Linked DNA regions of Homo sapiens. The protein of the gene in region 2 interacts with the protein of the main gene of each other region in a biochemical or structural test. Each region holds a gene or a part of one and is shown on either strand. Other genes may lie near its edges.

The links. The genes of interacting proteins can lie anywhere in the genome.
Region 1: the proteins of AMOT (region 2) and ARHGAP17 form a complex in vitro, tested with the Homo sapiens proteins (one study listed by IntAct).
Region 3: of the proteins of AMOT (region 2) and LATS1, one has a biochemical effect on the other in vitro, tested with the Homo sapiens proteins (one study listed by BioGRID).

The regions. Positions count from the first base shown.
Region 1 is NC_000016.10:24,920,779-24,928,369, reverse strand, and holds part of ARHGAP17 (rho GTPase-activating protein 17), read left to right. Parts: intron 1-637; coding exon of another isoform or gene 638-645; exon of another isoform or gene 646-686; intron 687-7,591. UniProt on the Homo sapiens protein: Rho GTPase-activating protein involved in the maintenance of tight junction by regulating the activity of CDC42, thereby playing a central role in apical polarity of epithelial cells.
Region 2 is NC_000023.11:112,809,164-112,817,345, reverse strand, and holds part of AMOT (angiomotin), read left to right. Parts: intron 1-1,468; coding exon 1,469-1,988; intron 1,989-5,952; coding exon 5,953-6,097; intron 6,098-7,359; coding exon 7,360-7,452; intron 7,453-8,182.
Region 3 is NC_000006.12:149,672,511-149,680,101, reverse strand, and holds part of LATS1 (serine/threonine-protein kinase LATS1), read left to right. Parts: coding exon 1-227; coding exon of another isoform or gene 228-235; intron 236-1,356; coding exon of another isoform or gene 1,357-1,420; intron 1,421-3,364; coding exon 3,365-3,547; intron 3,548-3,735; coding exon 3,736-3,842; intron 3,843-7,591. UniProt on the Homo sapiens protein: Negative regulator of YAP1 in the Hippo signaling pathway that plays a pivotal role in organ size control and tumor suppression by restricting proliferation and promoting apoptosis.

The DNA.
Region 1 (7,591 bases), on a different chromosome or scaffold from region 2:
CCCGAAGATACTAGCTATTTAAAAACCGGTCTATGCTATGAATTCTCCTAACTCAAGAAATTCCAGGTTACCAGAGTTATCTTTGTATTACAGAATTAACCTGTACTATCTTAAAATCCCCTGGCCTCCCACTGAAAGTACACAGAAGGCCAACATTTAGAATTTTTTAATCTGCTAGTATTGATCATACTGCTATTAACCATTCTTGGATGTAGCCATTGGGTTTTTCAAGGAGGAAAAAATATATAACTTCCTTGGACAGGATGGTCCTTTATTATGACATAATGTTTTCACTTAGAAAACTTTAGATGGACAAATTCCTGAAAACAGGTTATTCCTTTAGAATTGGATTAAGTTAGAGTTTTAAAGAGTTGGGTTAAGGCTAATGGGATTAAGATAAACTCTTGGGGGGAGATTATTGCTGCCAAGCAGGTTTGGCAGCCAACTTCTCACAGCTCAGCACCAGCACTGGAGGATGCCGGCATTCTGGCATCATTTTGAGTCTCCTGTTAATTGTGACTCTAGAGAGCAGTAAGAGTTTTAATTCCCATGTAAAAGAGTTTACATCTTGCTATTTTTGAAGTAATAGATTTTAGCAAAGAGTATTCTAATTTAAACATTTTATTAAATAATTTAGATGTATGACCTGCCATATTCAGTAAGAACTGAGATTGGAATATTTAATGGTAAGGAAAAGGCACCTGATTGGCCAATGCATTTTTGCTACTTGATGATCATATTTGTGCACTCATGCCTGTTACTAACTGGCCACCCTAACCCTGCCTGCTTGCATCCCTACTAATAGTGCATGCACTGAAGGAGGACTGGCTTTGTTGATGCTTGCTGCAATGATTCGGAATACTAAGTGTGTACCCAGATGTGGAACAGGTGGTCACAGGGCTGTCCTTGTTACTTCTTTAATTTCCATTCTTTTCCATATCAGGCAAGCTTGAGGTATAGTAGGAAGAACACACATTATGGAGTCAGACCTGACTGAGTTAGAATTTCAGCTCTTGGTATAACATAGGCTAGGCACAACCTGGCTGATCTGTAAAGTGGTGACATCTGTCTAAATTGTTGAAGATGAAATAAGAGAAAGTCCAAGATTATTCTGTTAGCCAGTTACAGTTCTTAATATACGCGCAATCTCGGCTCACTGCAAGCTCCGCCTCCCAGGTTCAAGCAATTCTCCTGCCTCAGCCTCCTGAGTACCTGGGATTATAGGCGCCTGCCACCACATCTGGCTATTTTTTTTATTTTTAGTAGAGACGGGGCTTCACCATGTTGGCCAGGCTGGTCTCGAACTCCTGACCTTAGGTGATCCGGCCTCCTCAGCCTCCCAAAGTGCTGGGATTATAGGTGTGAGCCATTGTGCCTGGCCTGCTATTTATCATTTTTATCTAGAAGAAAATAGTTTTAATCAGATTTCTATGTTAGATTCACATATCAGGGTTTTAAAAACTCATACGCCCGGACCCGGCCTTCTAGGACCCAAACACAGGAGACTGGGGGTGGAACCCAGGTATCCATATTTTGATTCTGATGCACCACTTGGTTTTTTGAATCTCACTTCTTTCATGGGTTAAAAAGACAATGCTCTGCAGAAGGAGATAACATATACATTCATATAATTTAGTGAGCCTGAGACTGTCTGTGAGGCGTTAGTCCACTGTACCACAGATAGACCAAATCACTCACAAAGTAGCCATAAGCCTGGACACTTTGCTGGCTAATTTCATAGTGTTTGCTTTTTAAACTCTCACCCTTCTTATGTCATGTAAGTAATGCCTTTTTAAAAATAAGCATGAGCTGGGGCACGGTGGCTCACGCCTGTAATCCCAGCACTTTGGGAGGCTGAGGCGGGTGGATCACTTGAGGTCAGGAGTTCAAGACCAGCCTGGCCAACATGGGGAAACCCCATCTCTACTGAAAATACAAAAAGTTAGCTGGGTGTCGTGGTGGGTGCCTGTAATCCCAGCTACTTGGGAGGCCAAGGCAGGAGAACTGCTTGAACCCAGGAGGTGGAGGTCGCAGTGAGCTGAGATCGTGCCACTACACTCCAGCCTGGGTGACAGAGTGAGACTCTGTCTCAAATAAATAAAAATAAGCATGGATATTAAAACTCTTGAGAAATGGAAATAATAAGAAATCAACTGTAGCTATACAATTGAAAAAGTCTGCCATTTATATTCTACTTTTTTTCTTTTCTCCTCTTCTCTTCTCTTCTCTTCTCTTTTCTTTTCTTTTCTTTTTTTTTTTTCAGACGGAGTCTCACTCTGTTCCCCAGGCTGGAGTGCAGTGGCACGATCTTGGCTCACTGCAAGCTCCGCCTCCTGGGTTCACACCATTCTTCTGCCTCAGCCTCCCGAGTAGCTGGGACTACAGGCGCCCACCACCACGCCCAGCTAATTTTTTGTATTTTTAGTAGAGACAGGGTTTCACCATGTTAGCCAAGATGGTCTCGATCTGCTGACCTTGTGATCTGCCCGTCTCGGCCTCCCAAAGTGCTGGGATTACAGGCGTGAGCCACCACACCCGCCCCTTTTTTTCTTTTAGTTTTTCTAGAAGGCAAGGAGGTACATGAGCATAATTATTTGACATAGACAGATTTGGATCCTTTTATTTCACTTTACATCATATGCTCGTTCTCATGTGATAATGTAATTTTTAGAACCATGTTTTTCAGTGACTACATAATGTTTCATCAACCAGATGTATTATTACTCCTAGTTGGATATTTAAGTGGCTTCTGTTTCTACTTGCAGTTTATTTTTAATAAGTAGATAATCAGAATTGTGTCAAGATAACATCCAGTGAGACTTGAACAGAATCACTCCTGAATAGTTGACTCAGAGTCTCTAATAGCCCTAGAAAACTGACGAGAAATCATCAGTTCCTGATAAAATTACACAATTCTACTTCAACCAAAGAGGATCAAAGCCAGATTGGTTGGACTGTCATTCTTCTGTTTATTTATTTTGTGTATTTTTTGAGACAGAGTCTTGCTCTGTCACCCAGGCTGGAGTGCAGTGGTGCAATCTTGGCACACGGCAACCCCTGCCTTCCTGGTTTAAGCAGTTCTCTTGCCTCAGCCTCCCAAGTAGCTGGGATTATAGGCAGGTGTGGCAACACCTGGCTGATTTTTGTATTTTTAGTAGAGACAGGGTTTTGCCATATTGGCCAGGCTGGTCTCCAACTCATGACTTCAAGTGATCCACTCACTTCTGCCTCCCAAAGTGCTAGGATTACAGGCATGAGCCACCGCACCTGGCCCCATCATTCTTAATCACCCTAACATTTTCCCTCTTTCCCAAAAGAGTTGTGTATATCCTTGGGTGAGGATCCTGAAAGTGAAGACATTATCTGAGGAAATAATGGTTTGGGTCTTAAACACTCTGGTTAGAGCTAAGTTTATATGACAGGTATTACATTGTAAAAAGGAGAAAAAGGTTATTTTAGAAAGACACCTGTTAGAACCTGCTTTTTTTTTTATTTTTTTTTATTTTTGAGACTGAGTCTTACCCCGTTGCTCAGAATGGAATGCAGTGGTGCGATCTCAGCTCACTGTGACCTCCACCTCCCAGGTTCAAGCGATTCTCCTGCCTCAGCCTCCTGAGTAGCTGGGATTACAGGCACTCACTACCGTGCTCGGCTAATTTTTGTATTTTTAGTATAGACGGGGTTTCACCATGTTGGCCAGGCTGGTCTTGAACTCCTGACCTCAGGTGATCTGCCTGCCTCGGCCTCCCAAAGTGCTGGGATTACAGGCATGAGCTACCACACCCAGCCAGAACCTGCTTTCTAAAAGCACCCTAAACCTCTTTGGTTGTGAATTTATATATTCTCTGCCTTCCAAGGGCTGGTCTTTGAGGATATTGCTTGGAACTAAGTTCATACAGTAGATATTTTATTTAAAAAAAAAAAAAACAGAAAAGAGACCTCCAATAAAAGGTTTCTTTTTTGTCTGATTTTTTGCTTTTTTTTAATTTTGAAATATAATACTTGTCATATAAACTTAGCTCCAAGCAGTATGCTCAAAGACCAGCCCTTCTTGGAATGCAAATAATATATAAATTCATAGCCAGAGACGTTTAGAGGTGTTTAAAGAAAACCAGGTTCTTACAAGTGTCTTTCTAAAATAACCTTTATCTCTTTTTTACAACAATCAACCAGAGTGTTTAAGACTCAAACCGTTCACTGGTGAAGGAAGGCATTCCCTGAGACTCTAGGTCTGAGAAGAGGGATGGGTGGTGGAGAGGGGGAGGGAGTTTATTCGCCCTGCAGTTGTGCCTGCACCACTTACTTTCAAGGGCATATTTGGATCTGTTACTTGTCAAAGTGGCTATCAGAATCACCTTGGACTTCTTGAAGGGTGAGTTCACAACCGAGAAAGCACATATTCAAAATTGTTGAAGTAATAAGTAAATCTTCTAGAACCTTACCCTCAGTGATAACATTCCACTTCTAGCTCTTAAATACCCACTTCTGTTTCCTGGATGAGATACTCAGTGCAGGAAGGAACCTGGGTTACATTTGTCAGAGCCCCAAATCTGAGATGAACTGTATCAAGTTCTGCCTTTGGGCTGAGGCTGGTTACTGGAGGTCATCCTCTGTTTCTCTCTTTTTTTTTTTTTTTTTTTTTAAAAAAAAGAGAGACAGGGTCTTGCTCTGTTGCCCAGGCTAGAGTGCAGCGGTGTGATTCCAGTCCACTGCAGCCTTGACCTCCTGGGCTCAAGCGAATCTCCCAAGTAGCTGGAAGGTGGAACTAGAGGCATGCACCACCACACCCGGCTAATTTTTGTGTTTTTCTTATAGAGACGGAGTCTCATGTTGCCTGGGCTGGTCTCGAACTTCTGGGCTCACACCATCATCCCACCACGCCCAGCCTATTTTGTTTTTTTAAATACAATATCTTTTGTATGAACTTAGCTCCAAGCATATGCTCAGAAACCAGCCCTTCTTGGAGTGCAGTTAATATACGAGTTCATAGCCAGAAAGATTTAGAGGTGTTTCAGACAAACCAGGTTCTTACAGGTGTCTTTCTGAAATAACCATTTTCTCCTTTTTACAACAAACCAGAGTGTTTGTAAGACTGAAACAATGATCTTGGATAATGTCTTTGAAGGCCCTCACCCAGGGATTTACAGACTCCTCTGGGGAGGAGGGAAAATGTAATGCGAAGAGCCAGAGTGCAACCAATCTGGCTTTGATCCTCTTTGGTCCACACTGGCTGTGTCACCTTGGGCAAGGAATAGAGCCTCTGAGTCTCCCTTTCTTATTTCTGCTGCCTTAGGATTAGTTAGTGGGGGTTCAGTGAGACGATGTAATAAAGTGTGGGTGTATAGTACAGTCTCTGGTGTAAGTAAGTGCTCTATAGTAATGTCAGCTACTGAGGCTGGGTGTGGTGGCTCATGCTGGTAATCCCAGCACTTTGGGGAGCCGAGGTGGGAGGATTGCTTGAGGCCAGGAGTTCAAGACCAGCCCAGTCAACATGGTGAAACCTTGTCTCTACCAAAAATAAAAAAAATTAGCCAGGCATGGTGGCGTATGCTTGTAGTCCTAGCTACTCGGGAGGCTGAGGTGGGAGGATCAGTTGAGCCCAGGAGGTGGAGGCTGCAGTGAGCTGAGATTGCACGACTGCACTCCAGCCTGGGCAAAAGAGCAAGACCCCATCTCAAAAAAAAAATTTTTTTTTTTAATGTTAGCTACTGTGATGAAGTCTCTTTCTGAAAACTGGTTCTGTACAGGTTGCCGTAATTCTTTCTACTTTTTGTGTGTAAACAAAGTCATTGTTTCTTTCAGGGACTGATTCATGTAGGAATAGAGAGGGGCTGGGGAAACCAGATGGGGCAGGTGGGCGGCAGAGTAAGGGATTTCCTTTATGCCCCAAAACACATTTTTTCCCCTTGAATTAATAATGTGTGTGGATCATAAATAGAAAAATTCAGAGAGGCACAAATCTAAAAATTATGTATATGTGATGTATAAGAAAAAGAGAGCAGCTGTGGAGGGGCTTGGTGGCTGATAGGCGTTAGCTTGCATGTGAATACAGATATTAACAAGTAGAAATCTCATCCGTATACACAGTGCCTTTGCATCATGCATTCCCCGCCAAGTCATGTCGGTTCCATAGTTTCTGGTAAACTCTGGGCTGAGAAGAGACACGGGCTGGTAGCCCCTTCTGTTTTTGGGGGCCAAGATAATGGGGAAAGGATTGCATTTGCAGTGATTTTCTTATACGTCGTCTTCAAGTCACAGCTACTTCTTTGCCTGAGGATGTAAGAATGGAGGATTGGAAAGATGGTTGCTCTAGATGACTCTTCATGCATCCATCCAACCATCCAAGTGTGCAGCTACAAAATTTCTTGAACATCTGCTATTTGCCGGTCACTGTTTTAGGTACTGAGGATACACTGTGAACAAGACAGACACAGTCCCTGCCTTCGTTGACTTCTGTTCTGCTTAGGACAAATCCAAGACAGCCCCTATTCTGTGCATACAGACCACCTTTGGCTGCACCATAGGCTGGTGCAGTTCTGCACAGTGTCATTGGTTTTATAGTTATCACAAGACCTGAATTGTCTGAAATGACATTCAGCACCTGAACTCTTTGACACTTTGGCACCTCCATAAATCTAGAAATTTCTCTGAGTTGTGGTGCATAGGAAACCTTGAGGGACAACCCAGGAGTAACTGTGAGAAAAAGGGTGTCCCAGGGAGTAAATAGATCTCACAGCTCAGAACTGTAGGGACAGGAAGGTGGAAGGGGTAGGAGCTGGAACAAGTCTCCAAGCAGTGAGCTTCCCCAAAGTGCACCAGCGTTTTCAAGCTGTGCCTGCGTAGACGGGAGCAGGTCGAACAGAAATATAGTCAAAACTAGCTCCCGTCAAGGACAGACAGGATGTCATTTTGCACCACAGCAAGTAGGGGAAAGCAGCTCTCAAGCCTAACTGTGAAACGCCCCCACAAACCACCTCCTCCTCCCACTCCCTCACTGCTGCCTGCCATGGCTACCTCTAACGCAGCAAAGCAAAACTACAAAACATCTCTCTTCTCTCTTACACCAGCCCTAAAATACCTAATGAGGCTCTCATAATTTGCCAGAACCCACATCTACGAGAGAAGCCAGCCCTTTTGTCTTAATTAGGATCCCCTTGGTCTGCCCACTTGACCGTGGGCTTCATTGAGGCTGTGCCTGTCTTGTTCAGTGCTGCGTCCTCAGCAGGTAGAATGGTGCCTGGCACCTGGGAGGTGCTCAGTAAATATTTGTTCATGCATAAATGAATCTGAGACCCACTGGCCTCTGGGAAGAGCATAGGAGAGGGGGACAACAGCATGAGGACCATATGTTTGCCATCTTGCTGAAGGAATTTCAGCCAACATAATAAGACATGAAAATGGCATTCGAGGTGTATTAGACAGACAAGGGGATGTTAGTGTTTGCAGGAGACTTGGTCTGCCTCAGTGATGTCAGTCAGCAGTGATTGTGATTCCCCAGGGGACACTCGGCAGCATCTGGAGACATTTTAGTTTAAACTTCCCCAGTGATCTGTGATGTACAGGAGACACTTTCGGTTGTCACACTGGGGGA
Region 2 (8,182 bases):
CTAACAAGGTCAGCTTATCTCACTGGGAGGTAGAGAAGTGACTGTAATTCCTATTCCGCCAAAAATGAGAAGACCCCAGTATTTTTGCAATTTATTTGTGACCTCAAGAATAAAATGGGCTCATGCAGATTAAGTAACTTGCACCAAGTTACACAGCTCGTGAGCAGTAGAAGAGGTCTCCAGACTCCCTCTGTTGGGATCCAGATCCCATGCACTTAGCCATCTGTCTTCCCTGGATTGAGAAATATCAACTGTAGAACAAGTGTCCACAGGACATGGGAGCATATGAGGTTAATTGGGCATGAGCTAGGGCATGAACAAGCTTTTTGTCTTCAGTGCACACTGACAGATACTATTCCTGGTAGTGGTGATGGTGGAAGTGATCCATCCACATACTAATTGTTTCCCTTAATGGCTAATAGTCATTAGGTATGAATTATTTATACTTAGGTGTTAGCATTTTGTACCTGGTAATTAGGTACAAAAATGGGAGAGCCACATTAAACAATGTACCAAAGGTCTCTTTCTGGAACTTTCTATGAGCAATAGGTTGGAAATCTAAGTATCAGTGCACAGAAATCAATGCATTATGGCAGTAGAAAAAGCCAGAAAATGGGAATTGGGAAAGAAGGATTCTATCTTGGCACCACCACTCTAATATTTGGCAGATGACTTCCCCTTTCTGGACCTCATTCCCCATCTGTCCAGTGATAGAGTTGAACTAAATAATTTTCTTTTAAGGCCTTTCCAGTTCTTACATTTTGCGATTCATTACATCAAAAATAGTATGTTAGCATTGCTTGTAACCCTCTTCAAGTCTTTTTATGGTTACTGCTAATGGGAATCATTAAATCGTTAACAACTGGAAGCAACAATAATCATTTAGTGTCTCTAATATAAGTATCTACCAATCCTTGAATAGTTTTTTTTCTTTTTTTTTGTGAATGTATGAATTACTAAAGGGAGTTGCAGATAGCAAGATGGGGGTGGTTTTTATGGCTGTTTGTTGTTTCCATCCTGGCAAATGGAACATAGTTTCTAAACTAGGATCTTTATGTGTGCTGGACCACGTGTATAATGTCAGAAAAGGTTTAATTTAAAATAATGAGATGAAAATTACCTTGTAGAAGAATCGTTTGAAATGTTTAGACTTGAGCAAACGGGTGTACAGGTGTGTATCACTACGATTTTCACAAAGTGACCATGGAAGTTGTCTGGTTCTGACCCTCATGGGATCACACCTCTGTTTGTCAGGCAGAGGCACAGAAGGTCAGGCTGGAAAAGGGCTGTGGTCTTTGCAGAGATAGAGCAGGCAGGGTTAGACTTCCCCATAGTCAGACCCTGCCTGCTCTTCATTTTGCAGGTGTCCTGGGGGCATCAGAAGCCTCCTCATCTCACTTTTGTGTGCCCTTCTCCCCCAGTGCCTTAGGAGAGAAATTAACCCGCACCTGCCCTTCATGTTTTACAGGCCAGCGCAGGACATCTCATTGCCATTGTCAGCCAGGAACTCGCAGCCTCACAGCCCTACTTCTTCTCTGACCTCTGGGGGGTCCTTGCCCTTGCTACAATCTCCACCATCCACTAGATTGTCTCCTGCCCGACACCCCTTGGTCCCAAACCAGGGAGACCATTCAGCTCACCTGCCTAGGCCGCAGCAGCATTTCCTTCCTAATCAGGCTCACCAGGGGGATCATTACCGTCTCTCCCAACCTGGCCTGAGTCAGCAGCAGCAGCAACAGCAGCAGCAGCACCATCATCACCATCACCACCAACAACAGCAGCAGCAGCAGCCACAGCAGCAGCCAGGAGAAGCCTATTCAGCTATGCCTCGGGCTCAGCCATCCTCTGCTTCTTATCAGCCAGTGCCAGCAGACCCTTTTGCCATTGTTTCCAGAGCCCAGCAGATGGTTGAGATCCTCTCAGACGAGAACCGGAACTTGAGGCAAGAGTTGGAAGGATGCTATGAGAAGGTGGCAAGACTGCAGAAGGTGAGGCTTCCGTTTTGGGATATTAGGGTCTCTAAGTCTTTATTTGTGAGACTTGTTTAATATCCACATTAAAGTCTCCAGTTGTGAATCCCAGCATTACTTGTGGCAGGTCTTCAGGATTTTTATATCTGAAGGTTAGATATGAGTCAAACTTTGGAAAAAGCCTTCTACCTGTCTACCTAGGAGAAGTAACGTCTTACATTTACACAAGGAGAAAAAAATTTATGCAGTTTTTCCAGACGCTATAGCCCTAAAGAAAACGTGATTAATTCTTTTAGAATTCCAAAAGGCAGTGATACTTCTTGATAAGAATACTGGTGATGCCTTTATAGGTAAAGGATCTGACGGCACCTTAAGGCTCATTGTCTTGGTCACATTTTCCCAAATATGAATTTGAATCTTAAATATAAAAATAAATGTAGTTCCTAGAAAAATCTCACCAGCTAAAGTTTGAGCAGTCCTGCCTTGTTCTGGAAAAGGCTCAGAATACTTTTTCCTAGTGGGAGTTCTCATAGTAACTCTCTTTCAACAATCCCTCCACCCCACCCTTTGATTTGGTCCCTCCCTGCAGCTCAAATTCAACATCTGCTCTCTTTCTCTGTTGTATGTGGGGGGCAGGAGGGGCTTAACACCACAGCTGGGTGACAGGTGACAGCCCTAGGCTGAGGAAATAGAAAAAGGAGTGTATCTCCAGTTCACATTCTTCTCTGCCCACCCCCATTGGGACTTTACCTCTGGAGTACCCCAAGCGAGGAACCTTAGCTCTTGGCTTCCAGGGGCTGCTGGTGAATAGGGTTATGCCTTTGGCCGCTTCTTTGCAGCTTTTGTCATTGTGGAGCTATTGTGGTTTGGTCTCCCTACAATGTGAACTGTTCAGAGAGGTGAGGGTGAAGGTGGGGGAGGGACAGGAGGATGCCTTGTATTGTCCAGCAACTCTGTCCTTAGGAAACACCAGGAGTGAAAATTTCAGAGGCCTGAATGAAGCTGAGTATTTGTAAACAGACACCAAATCTGGGGGCCTCAAGGAGACAGGGGCTTATTATCAGCAGATGATTTTTTTTCTTTCTTTCTTTTTTTTTTTTTTTGAGACGGAGTCTCGCTCTTGTTACCTAGCCTGCAGTGCAATGGCACGATCTCCACTCACTGCAACTTCCGCCTCCTGGGTTCAAGCAGTTCTCCTGCCTCAGCCTCCTGAGTAGCTGGGATTACAGGCATGTGTCACCACGCCTGGCTAATTTTGTATTTTTAGTAGAGACGGGGTTTCTCCATGTTGGCCAGGCTGGTCTCGAACTCCCGACCTCAGGTGATCCGCCCGCCTTGGTCTCCCAAAGTGCTGGGATTATAGGCGTGAGCCACTGCGCCTGGCAAACAGAGGATTTTTATATAGGAAAATGGCTTCCCTGTCCCTTAGTTTTCCTAAATCTGGATGAGGGTTGTTGGAGTGCTCTGAGAATTGTTTCTTCCCGGCTTTTCCCTGATTTTGTATTTTCACCCGCAAATTTTAACTATATCCCTATCCCCATCGCTTTGGTGAAATAAATTAATTATATCCATACACTAGAAACCCAGTCTGGCTGATTAGGCTAACAGTTGACACCCCCTCTCCAAACTCTCTCTTCATGGTGATCCCAGCCCATCTTTGATACAATCACTGAAGGATGAACCCAGCTCTAATACGGGCCCTTTTTGCCAGAGGATCCATGGTGATTTTTTGTGTGTGTGGGAGTGGGTTCAGCCAGTGACAGGGAAGAGGGACAGAGAATAGGATTGCTGTTGTTTGTTCCCCAAGATGGGAAAAGATGCCTCAAATAAGTGTAACTGGAACAGCTTGAATGTTGGGAAAGTAGAGGCTGACCCAGTGTCGAGGTAGAGTAGAGGGGAAGGTGGACCAGGAGAGGAAAAGGAAAGTGGGGAAAATTAAGGTAGATCCCAGGTAGTGCTGGAGGAAATGAAAAGGCCTGAGGCTCATGAGGGGAATAAGTAGACAGAGTAAGTCTGGAAAACCCACTGCCACCCTCCTCTCTGCCCCCACCATCACCCAGCCCAAACCAGTGGATATATCCTTCTGTGATGGCTTTTCCTGGAAGGCCCTATTGAGAGCTGTGGGACTTGCCCTTTTGAAGGATGGAGTATCTACACAGGGGGTAGGGGAAGGATTAGTACAAGATCTTGAAATAGCAGTCTGCACACCTTGAGGAAAGGGACTACCTTCTAGGTGTTGCATTCTGTGCACAACCGGACAGCCTTGAACTATAAATGCTGCCCAGAGCAGACCAACACCAAGCCTGCTCTTTCAGATGGAAATGTTTATTTTCTCTCCCCAGCGCTTGAGTTTCATGCAAAAGCTTCATCAGGCGCAGGCCTTGCAGATCTTGTCTCTAAATGCCATTCACCAGTTTTCACCTTCTGTGCTGCTATCTTGGTGCCATCTGTGAAGAGAAAAACACTTTTGAGTCTGCTCTTTTCTGTGGCATAAGCCTTATTTGTTTGCAGGCAGTCCTGTCTCTGGCAGAATTTTGGAGATGGAGGCGGGTTGAATCTGACTGGTTTGGCAACCTTACCTTTCCCCTAGTGTCCCATTAGGGGCCTGATATTTCTTCCCTGAAAGTACCCTGAGCTTTGTTAAACAGGATAGTGGAAAACACAGAAGCAATGCAGAATGGTTGCAGAGTCCAATTTAATCTGAAAATTGCTTAATAGACCGTGGGTTTATTTGTCTTATACAAATTATATGCAAATATCTGTGTGGCTATTATATGTGCAATGGAGCTATACTAGTTACAGAAAAACTCTGGAGTCTAATTTCTCATTTTCGGCCTGATTGTGGCTGATTCAGGGGAAGACCCTTTCTCTCTGAGTTTATTTTCCCCATTTTATGAGATTTGCAGGGGTGTCATAAAACACAACTCTGATTATGATTTTGTGTTCAAAAACCTATACTGGTTTCCCATTGACTATGGGATAAAGTCCAAATGCCTGGCATTAAAAGCATTTTATGATCTGACTCCAATCTATCTTAGCAGCCATATCTCGCCAGGTTCCCTCTGCGTACCCCACAGTGTCCAGCCAAATTAAACGACTGGTCATTCTGGGAATGCATTTGCTTACTCAGAATAGAATACCCTTCCCCTCACCTCTGCTCATTGAAATCTGACCCAGCTTTCAGGATCTGACTGTAAATGCCACCTCTTCTCAGAAATTGTTCTCCTCCCCACTTCCCCAACCAGGAATAACTTCTTCCTTGTCTGTACTTTATGGCACTACTTCTACTTTTCTTAAAGATGTATCTTGCCCTATAGTCTTTCATTCGATTGGATTGAAACCTCCCTGAGGGCAGTGAGAATGTTCTCATTCATATTTACACACCCCCAATAGTACTTTAAAGAGTTCGTGTAAATATTTGGCCCTTGGTAAATGTTTGTTAAATTGAACTGAACTACTTCATGAAGCTTGGGGTTTTTAGGGTTGGTCTCTGCTGCTGACAGTTGATCTTCAGAGGCAATTTGACTTTTCTCTCTACTAAAATGAGAAGAGGTATCCTGTCTAGGCAGATAATCAGTGCAGACTGGAACCAACATGTGAAAGCCCTTTGAATGCTTTGGAATATCTACATACTATATATATTATTACTAATATTTTCAAAATTAAGAGTTTTCTTCAGAAATTAAAATCCTTTATAACTATTTATAAAATTTATTCTATCTTACCATCTCCTCTGAAGGCAGAAATTGTCTATTTTTTTAACCCGAGGAAAGACCATGACACCATGAGTTAATTACTAAGCTTATGGTTGAAGGTGGAGATCCTTTCTTGAAACTTGTGTCATCTGACTGTGTTATGCTTGCCTCCTGGCCATCTGTGAGCCCTGGGAGAAGCTGTCAGCGAGGATTTGCCTGTTTGTTTTCAGACCATTTTCCCCATCACCCTCCTACCATCACCACCATTGTCTTTTTTTGTTGTTAAGGTGGAGACAGAAATCCAGCGCGTCTCGGAGGCATATGAGAACCTCGTGAAGTCATCCTCCAAAAGAGAGGCCCTAGAGAAAGCCATGAGAAACAAGCTAGAGGGCGAGATTCGGAGGATGCATGATTTCAACAGGGATCTGAGAGGTGAGGGAACCAACAGACTTGTCTTTGTACTTCTGAAGCAGCTGCAGGGTGGTGAAGGGAAGGGCTGAGCAGGATCCAACTAGGCTCTTTGGGGTTGTCCAACCCACCGGTATGGGCAGTAAATGGCTGGGCATGTGCCAGGCTAATTTTTTGTGACTGCAATAGTCCTCAGTCCCAAGCTTGATTGATCAAAGTGTGGATGTACCTCACTGGTCTTCTGAGCAATGAGCTGATGTGTTAATCAGGCAGGATCCCTGCTGGGACTCCTGGACCCACCTGGCCCACCCCCACAATAGGTGCTGCCTCTTCTTTTTAACAGGTTTTACAGAGGCGTGCCCTTTGACTGCAAGCTTGAAGTATAATGTCCTCTCTTATTTCCAGGACTGACTGACTCCTTTTATTTTTGACTTTCACCTGATAATATTGAAGACTTTGGGAAATATTTCTACTTTAAAGTGCCTTCAGCACCTTCAAAACTGCTAACCTTGGGGATGGTACTTTCTTTTTTTTTTCCTTTTTCTTTTCTTTTTTTTTTCTTTGAGTTGGAGTCTTGCACTGTCGCCCAGGCTGGAGAGCACTGGCATAATCTCGGCTCACTGCAACCTCCACCTCCCAGGTTCAAGTGATTCTCCTGCCTCAGCCTCCTGAGTAGCTGGCTGGGATTACCAGCGTGCGCCACCATGCCTGGCTAATTTTTGTATTTGTAGAGATGGGGTTTTGCCACGTTGGCCATGCTGGTCTTAAACTCCTGACCTCAGGTGATCCACCCACCGTGGCCTCCCAAAGTGCTGGGATTACAGGCATGAGTCACTGTGCCCGGCCAGGGATGTTACTATCTTTGAATTTTGGTTATTTTATCTTTAAAGTCAGGGGGCCCAAATACATGCTGCTAGTTGTCCCTTTCAACTTTGACATTACATGAGTTTAAATACTTTATAATAACTGTGATACTCTTTTTTTTCTGGTTAATGAAAGATATCTTTATATATTTGGGGATGGATAATTTCATTGAAATTTAGAATTCTGCACTTAACTTAGGTTTTGGCAGTGAGGAGTGAAAGCATTAAATACTTACCTCCTCCTCCCCGGCCATGGTCTAGTATTATTTTGGGATTCACATTTGCAAACTCATGTTAGTCACCCATTCCTGTTTAACAAGAAGAAACAGGCTTGTTTTACCAAAGGTCAGTATTTAGAGGGCCAATAGTATGTGCATGAAAGTTTACATTTGAGACCCTGTTGATTGTCTCCAAATTTCACAGAGCGTCTAGAGACTGCCAACAAGCAGCTTGCAGAGAAGGAATATGAGGGGTCAGAGGACACCAGAAAAACCATCTCGCAGCTCTTTGCAAAAAGTAAGTCTGCAAGCTGCAGAAACAGGTATTAACGTGTGGATGGGAGCAAGGTGCGTGAAAAGATTACACTGTTCTCTTTAGCCTTTTAGAACAGCCAGGGCAGAGTCAATATCACCTAAGGATTGTTTTTCCTATTCAGGCATGAAGTTGGAAGATTCTGTTCTTTTCCTCCTAAGCCAAGAAGGCTGCTTGCCACAACATCTCGTCACATCACATTGGTCCTTCAGCATTAAACTAGAGAAGCCCCTTGAAATCCCTGCTAGTGTCATTGCTATCTAAATAAAGAGGCTTACTGAACATGAGGTCCCTTCATGTTGAAGGGATTTTCTTAGAAGAAACTGTGTGTTGGCTCTGGTAGAGATGGGATTAATATGCAGGATCGATGATAGTGTTTGGAATACTTCACCTGTACCTGGGGCTCCCTAGTATTTATTGTTACACAGCAGCAGATTGCAAGGGGAGCTAATCCTATGGCCTGAACTAGTGACTCTGGCTGCAGAGTTGGAGGATGTGGGGGAGGGCAGAGCTGTGTCTTCCTCATAATAGTGTTTCCTTTGTCTGGAAATACTCCTAGGACCATGACAATGAATTAATCCTTTTCTTTATCAGTGTCTAATGGACCCCACCCAGCTAGACAATGTCTAATTATTTCCAATTGCCTTAATAAAACCAGCAATAAAAACTTCATAGTGGATTGAGTCCACAGGGAGAATTAGTCGGGGGGAAACAT
Region 3 (7,591 bases), on a different chromosome or scaffold from region 2:
TATGATGAGCCTATTAATTAGAATGGGCATCTTTCCAGAAAGTCTGGCACGATTCTACATAGCAGAACTTACCTGTGCAGTTGAAAGTGTTCATAAAATGGGTTTTATTCATAGAGATATTAAACCTGATAATATTTTGATTGATCGTGATGGTCATATTAAATTGACTGACTTTGGCCTCTGCACTGGCTTCAGATGGACACACGATTCTAAGTACTATCAGAGTGGTAAGTAAACTCATAAAATTTATTTTAGTTTGTTCATAATAATGTAATTTATTGATGTAGTAAAATATAAGATGGTATCATCACTGGATGAGAGCCAGAAGATGTGGGTCAGGTCTTGATTCTGTTGGATAAACTTGGGTGACTCCATTAGGCACTTAGACTTATGAAATGAAAGAATGTGCTAGACTTGATTGTTTAGACTTATGAAATGAAAGAATGTGCTAGACTTGATTGTTTCTAAATATTATTAACATTTTTGAGTCACACCTTTTACATTTTATTTGAAAATATGCCAGACAAACAATTTTTTTTTTTTTTTTTTTTTGATGGAGTCTCGCTCTGTCGCCCAGGCTGGAGTGCAGTGGCACCATCTTGGCTCACTGCAATATCCCCCTCCTGGGTTCAAGTGATTCTCCTGCCTCAGCCTCCCGAGTAGCTGGGATTATAAGCACCTGCCAGTACGCCCGGCTAATTTTTGTATTTTTAATAGAGATGGGGTTTCACCATGTTGGCCAGGCTGATCTCGAACTCCTGACCTCAGGTGATCCACCTGTCTCAGCCACCCAAAGTGCTGAGATTATAGGTGTGAGCCCCCTGCGCCTGGCCAAAAACATTTTTAAAATAATTTTTTAATGAATCCTCATATCCAACATTCAGTTAAAGAACTAGATTATCAGTACTTTAGAAGCCCTTAAACAATCACTTCCCCTTTTCTCCTCCACAAAGATAATTATTATTTCAGAACTTTATAATCGGTTCTTTACTTTTATCGATCCTTTTATCACAAATGTGTATATCTTTAAATAATATATTATTTCATTTTGCCTACTCTTTAACCTTTATTTAAATATAATCTATATATATTCTTTGTGTTGACTTGTTTGAGGTTCCTCCATGTTATTGCTTGTAACATTTATTTTCACTACTATTTAGGATTTCATTACATGACTGTTACACAACTTATATAACCCTAAACACTTTATGATCCTTGATCCTATTTTATCCTCACAATGTCACTGTGAGGCAGGATGAAGAAACTGAGACCTAGTTAGATGAAGTAACTTGCCCAAGGTCAGACAGAAATCAAGTGTAAGGGCTAGGCTTTGAACCCAGGTTTGTCTGATTTCAGGGCCCATGTTATTTCTACTACACCACACTGCCTCACCAAGATCCCTCCAAGCGCTAATGGAAGTGTAAGTCAATCTAACATTTGTTAAATACTATGTACTAGGTGCTTAACCATATATTCTAATATGCTCGCAACAATTCTCTGAGGTAAGTATTATTAGCCTCCTGTGCTTCTGTGAACACAAGTAGATTGACATTAAAATGGGTAGAACTGAGACAATTGAACCTACTTTAATGTTCGACATAGTGGAATTTAGTGTCTTCCCAGATTCGACTGAATTATTACCTGGAAAGCTTCTTAAAAATATGATTCCTAGGCTCTATTCCCATCTTTTGATCAAAAATCTTCACTGGGGCATAGAAATCTTTTTGTTGTTTTTTGTTTGTTTGTTTGTTTGTTTTTGAGACGGAGTCTCGCTCTGTTGCCCAGGCTGGAGTGCAGTGGCGCAATCTCGGCTCACTGCTAGCTCTGCCTCCCAGGTTCACGCCATTCTCTTGCCTCAGCTTCCCGAGTAGTTGGGACTACAGCCGCCGGCAACCACGCCCGGCTATTTTTTTTTTTTTTTTTTTTTTTTTTTTTTTGGATTTTTAGTAGAGACCAGGTTTCACCGTGTTAGCCAGGACGGTCTCAATCTTCTGACCTCATGATTTGCCTGCCTCTGCCTCCCAAAGTGGCTGGGATTACAGGCGTGAGCGACCACGCCCAGCCTGTTTGTTTTTTTTTTTTTGAGACGGAGTTTTGGTCTGTTGCCAGGCTGGAGTGCAGTGGCGCGATCTCGGCCCACTGCAACCTCCATCTCCTGGGCTCAAGCGATTCTCCTGCTTCAGCCTCCCAAGTAGCTGGAATTACAAGTGTGCTCCACCACACCCAGCTAATTTTTGTATTTTTAGTAGAGATGGGGTTTCACCATGTTGGCCAGGATGGTCTCAATCTCTTGACCTCATGATCCACCCTCCCTGGCCTCCCAAAGGGAAATCATATTTTAATCAAACATCCCAGATAAATATTACAGTTAGGTTAATTTCTTATATTCTAGGTGACTTCATGCCATCTATATGTCAATGAATTCCAAATCTCTCTCTCCAGAAATGGCCTTTCTCTGAAATTCGTAATTTCTCTATCCAGCTGCTTCCTGGCTATCTTCACATGGATTTCAAATAGGCCTTTCAAACTTCACATGACCCATAAAGAACTTTTTTTTTTAAGCATAAATCAGATACTGTTATCTTCTTGCTTCGAACTCTGCAATATCTTCTCACTTTACTTGAGGTAAAAGGCAGACCATTTCTATTGCTTGCAAAACCCACATGTATTCCTGCCGCATTTCTTACAGTTCTTGCCCCATTTCCTACAGTTCTCCCCTTTATCAGCTGTGCTGGTCTTCTCTCTGTTGCTGTTATTTCTGTGTGGAATACCTAATCCTGATTTATAAATGGTTGAGTCCTTCTTGTTTTTTTACGGTTTAGCTGAAGTCACCTTCTTAACTGGTCTTCCCTAGCCATTCAGTCTTATGTAGCTATCCAGTCACATTTGTTACATCACCCTGTGTTGATTCTCTGTGTAGGGTATGTCACTGTTCCTTATATGTGTAATTGTTTTGTTTCTTTTCCTACTAGAATGTAACCAGAGCTTTGTCTTATTATCACTGTCATTTATTGAATGAAAGATGGATCTAATTTGTTTGAAAGTTTGTCCAGAGTAGTAACAGGGAGTGGGCTAAATAACAAACTCTTAATCTCCCCATGACTCATATTGTTGTTATTTAACATTGCATAAATTACTAAATCTTAGGCTAATTTTTTTTAAGTGTAAAATCCTTCCTATTGACATCTCAGAAAATAGGCTCTAATTGGTAATAAACACCATCAGTGATTTGGCATACATTGTGTCTTAGTTTGTCACAAGGGAGAATGTTGTTAACCCTAAACCACGATGTCAGAAGATTAAATAGACTTCAGGTTTACTGTTGTCATTGTTGACTTTATTTACTTATTCTTTTGTTGTGCAGGTGACCATCCACGGCAAGATAGCATGGATTTCAGTAATGAATGGGGGGATCCCTCAAGCTGTCGATGTGGAGACAGACTGAAGCCATTAGAGCGGAGAGCTGCACGCCAGCACCAGCGATGTCTAGCACATTCTTTGGTTGGGACTCCCAATTATATTGCACCTGAAGTGTTGCTACGAACAGGTAAAGCACTTCTTTCATATATATTCTCAGTAGACCTTTAGACCAGCCAAAACGACACTAGAATATGCCTTATTTTTCAGGCTTATAATAAAAGTATTAATTTTAAAGTATAAATTGGTGATTTAATGTTAATTTTTATTGTATTCTGAGCATTTTTAAAGTGCTTATAAATAACTTTGTTATTTTAGGATACACACAGTTGTGTGATTGGTGGAGTGTTGGTGTTATTCTTTTTGAAATGTTGGTGGGACAACCTCCTTTCTTGGCACAAACACCATTAGAAACACAAATGAAGGTAAGGTATGGCATCTATATCAAAAGAATTCTCACAAAGTTGCTACATCATTGACTTTTATTTATTAGTACGTAGAGCATTTTAGTCTGGAGTTAAAGAATGAACTTGGGCCGGGTGCAGTGGCTCACACCCATAATGCCAGTTCTTTGGGAGGCTGAGGCAGGAGGATTGCTTGAGCCTAGGAGTTCAAGATCAGCCTGGCAACAATGTGAGACCACATCTCTACAAACAAATATTTTTTAATTTAAAAAAGGAAAAGAATGAACTTGTAAGGGTATAGGAACTCACCAGAATTGCATGCGTGAACTCCAGTCTCCATGATGCCATATCCCCATAATCTTGTATCCCCCCTCACTCATACAGCATACTCATATATCATATATCATTCTCAAAAAGGTCTTTAGGCCAGGCACGGTGGCTCATGCCTGTAATCCTACCACTTTGGGAGGTGTAGGCGGGTGGATCACCTGAGGTCAGGAGTTTGAGATCAGCCTGGCCAACATGGCGAAACCCCGTCTCTACTGAAAATACAAAAATTAGCGGGGTGTGGTGGCAGGCGCCTGTAATCCCAGCTACTTGGGAAGCTGAGGCGGGAAAATCCCTTGAACTCAGAAGGCGGAGGTTGCAGTGAGCCAAGATCTTGCCATCGCACTCCACCCTGGGTGAAAGGGCGAAACTCCTCAAACAAAACAAAACAAAACAAAAAGGTCTTTAGTCCATTTTGAAGATTTAGTCCAGTTTACTCTTTGTCACCTACTGCCTCCTGGCCTTGTCTCCTTCTATGCAAACTACAAACAAATGTTTATATCCCCACTTGAAAATACCTCTGGCACTTAAATGAGAAGTTACCCACAATTTTGACCATACACTGTCTGATTTAATACTCTTTAGTGATTGTCCGTGGGTTAAAGTTGAAATTTGCCCTCTGTTCATACCGTTCCCTCTGTCTGGAATGTCCTACTTCCATCTCTCTCTTCTATAACCCTTCCTCCTTTCTGAAGTCTAATTAACTCTTGGTCATTCTCTCTTTTTTTTTTTTTTTTTGATACAGAGTCTTGCTCTGTCATCAGGCTAGAGTGCAGTGGCGTGATCTCAGTTCACTACAACTTCTGCCTCCTGGGTTCAAGCAATTCTCGTGCCTCAGCCTCCCGAGTAGCTGGGATTACAGGCATGCGCCATCATACCCAGCTAGTTTTTGTATTTTTAGTAGAGACGAGGTTTCACCGTGTTGGCCAGGATGGTCTCAATCTCCTGAACTTGTGATCTGCCCGCCTCGGCCTCCTGATCATTCTTAATTATTCTTTGAGGGCCAGACATGATGGCTCATGTCTGTAATCCCAGCACTTTATTTATTTTGAGATAAGGTCAAAACATTTCACCTAGGGTGTAATGCAGTGGCGTGATCTCCTCTCATGCAACCTCTGTCTCCTGGCTCAAATGACCTATCTCAGCCTCCTGGGTAGATGGGACCGCAGGTGCATTTTTTTTTGTATTTTTTGTAGATACAGGGTTTTGCCATGTTGCCCAGGCTGGTCTCAAACTCCTGGGCTCAAGTGATCCACCCACCTCAGCCTCCCAAAGTGCTGGGATGGGTGCAGTGGTTCACACCTGTAATCCCAACACTTTGCAAGGTCGTGGCAGACAGATCACTTGAGCCCAGGAGTTTGAGACCAGCCTGGGCAACATGGTGAAACCCCCTCTGTACAAAAAATACAAAAAACTTAGCCAGGCATGGTAATGCATATTTGTGGTCCTAGCTACCTGGGAGGCTAAGGTTGGAGGGTCACTGGAGCCTAGGAGACGTTGCAGTGAGCCATATTTGTGCCACTGCACTCCAGCCTAGGTGACAGAGTGAGATCCCATCTCAAAAAATAAAAAATTTGGCTGGGTGTGGTGGCTCACACCTATTATAATCCCAGCACTTTGGGAGGCCAAGGCAGGTGGATCACCTGAGGTCAGGAGTTTGAGACCAGCCTGGCCAACATGGTGAAACCCTGTCTCTACTAACAATACAAATATTAGCTGGGTGTGGTGGCGCGCCCCTGTAATCCCAGCTACTTGGGAGGCTGAGGCACGGGGATTGCTTGAACCCAGGAGGCAGAGGTTGCAGTGAGCTGAGATCACACCATTGCACTCCAGCCTGGGCAATAAGAGCAAAACTCTGTCTAAAAAAAACAAATTATTCTTTGAGAGTTTCCTGAGATTCCATCGTTTCTTTGATTTCCACCTTTCTTAAGCTATAACTTCTTCAGTCATTGCATTTAATATAGAAATGGTTTTACATTAGCCGGGTGTGGTGGCTCATGCCTGTAATCCCAGCACTTTGGGAGGCTGAGGCGGGTGGATCACCTGAAGTCGGGAGTTCGAGACCAGCCTGACCAACATGGTGAAACCCCGTCTCTACTAAAAATACAAAAATTAGCCGTGCATGGTGGCTGGTACCTGTAGTCCCAGCTATATGGAGGCCCTGAGGCAGGAGAACTCCTTGAACCTGGGAGGCAGAGGTTGCAGTGAGCCGAGATCGCGCCATTGCACTCCAGCCTGGGCGACAGAGTGAGACTCTATCTCAAAAAAAAAAAAAGGAAAAAAAAGAAATGGTTTTACATTTTAAAACTTCTTTTAGGATTTTTTATAGTATAGGTCTGCTGATAAGGCATTCTCTCAGGTTTGTCTCAGGTATGTCTGAAATTATCTTTATTTTGTCTTCATTTGAATATATTTGTGTGTAGGTGTATGAGAGAGAGAAAAAAAATTGTATGCTTTCTCCCTAAGGTTGAGAACAAGGCAGGAATGTCCATTCTCATCAATTCTATGTTCTGGAATCTTAGCCAGCATAATACAGCAATGAAAAGAAATAAAAGGGCTGGGCGCGGTAGCTCATGCCTGTAATCCTAGCACTTTGGTAAGCCAAGGCGGGTGGATTGCTTGAGCCAAGAATTGGAGACCAGCCTGGGCAACATGGCGCAACCGTGTCTCTACAAAAAAAATAGAAAAATTAGCCGAGCATGGCAGTGTGCACCTGTAGTCCCAGCTACTCACGAGGCTGAGGTGGGAGGATCACCTGAGCCTGGGGAGGTCAAGGCTGCAGTGAGCCATGATTATACCACTGCACTCCAGCCTGGGTAATAGAGTAAGATCCTATCTCAAAAAAAAAAAAAAAAAAGAAAAGAAAAGAAAAGGAAGAAGTAAAAAATAAAAACTTCCCCTATTCAAAAATGATATAATTTTCTATATAGAAAATCCCAGGGAATCTATAGGTGTAAAGTACAAGAATAACACATAAAATCTATCCATTTCTTCGTTGTTGTTTTTTTTGAAACAGAGTTTCACTCTTGTTGCCCAGACTGGAGTGCAATGGTGCTATCTTGGCTCACTGCAACCTCTGCCTCCTGGGTTCAAGTGAGCCTCCTGCCTCAGTCTCCTGAGTAGCTGAGACTACAGGCATGCGCCACCATCCCAGTTAATTTTGTATTTTTAGTAAAGACTGGGTTTTACCATGTTGGTCAGGCTGGTCTTGAACTCCTGACCTCAGGTGGTCCACCCACCTCGGCCTCCCAAAGTGCTGGGATTACAGGCGTGAGCCACTGCGCCCGGCCAAAATCCATCTATTTCTATATTTAAGCAATGAAAACTGGAAACTAAAATTTAAAAGCAATACCATTCACAATAGCTCCTCTGACATAAAATACTTTGTTATAAATCTAGAACATGAGCAAGATTTGTATGCAAATTGCTACTGAAAGAAATCA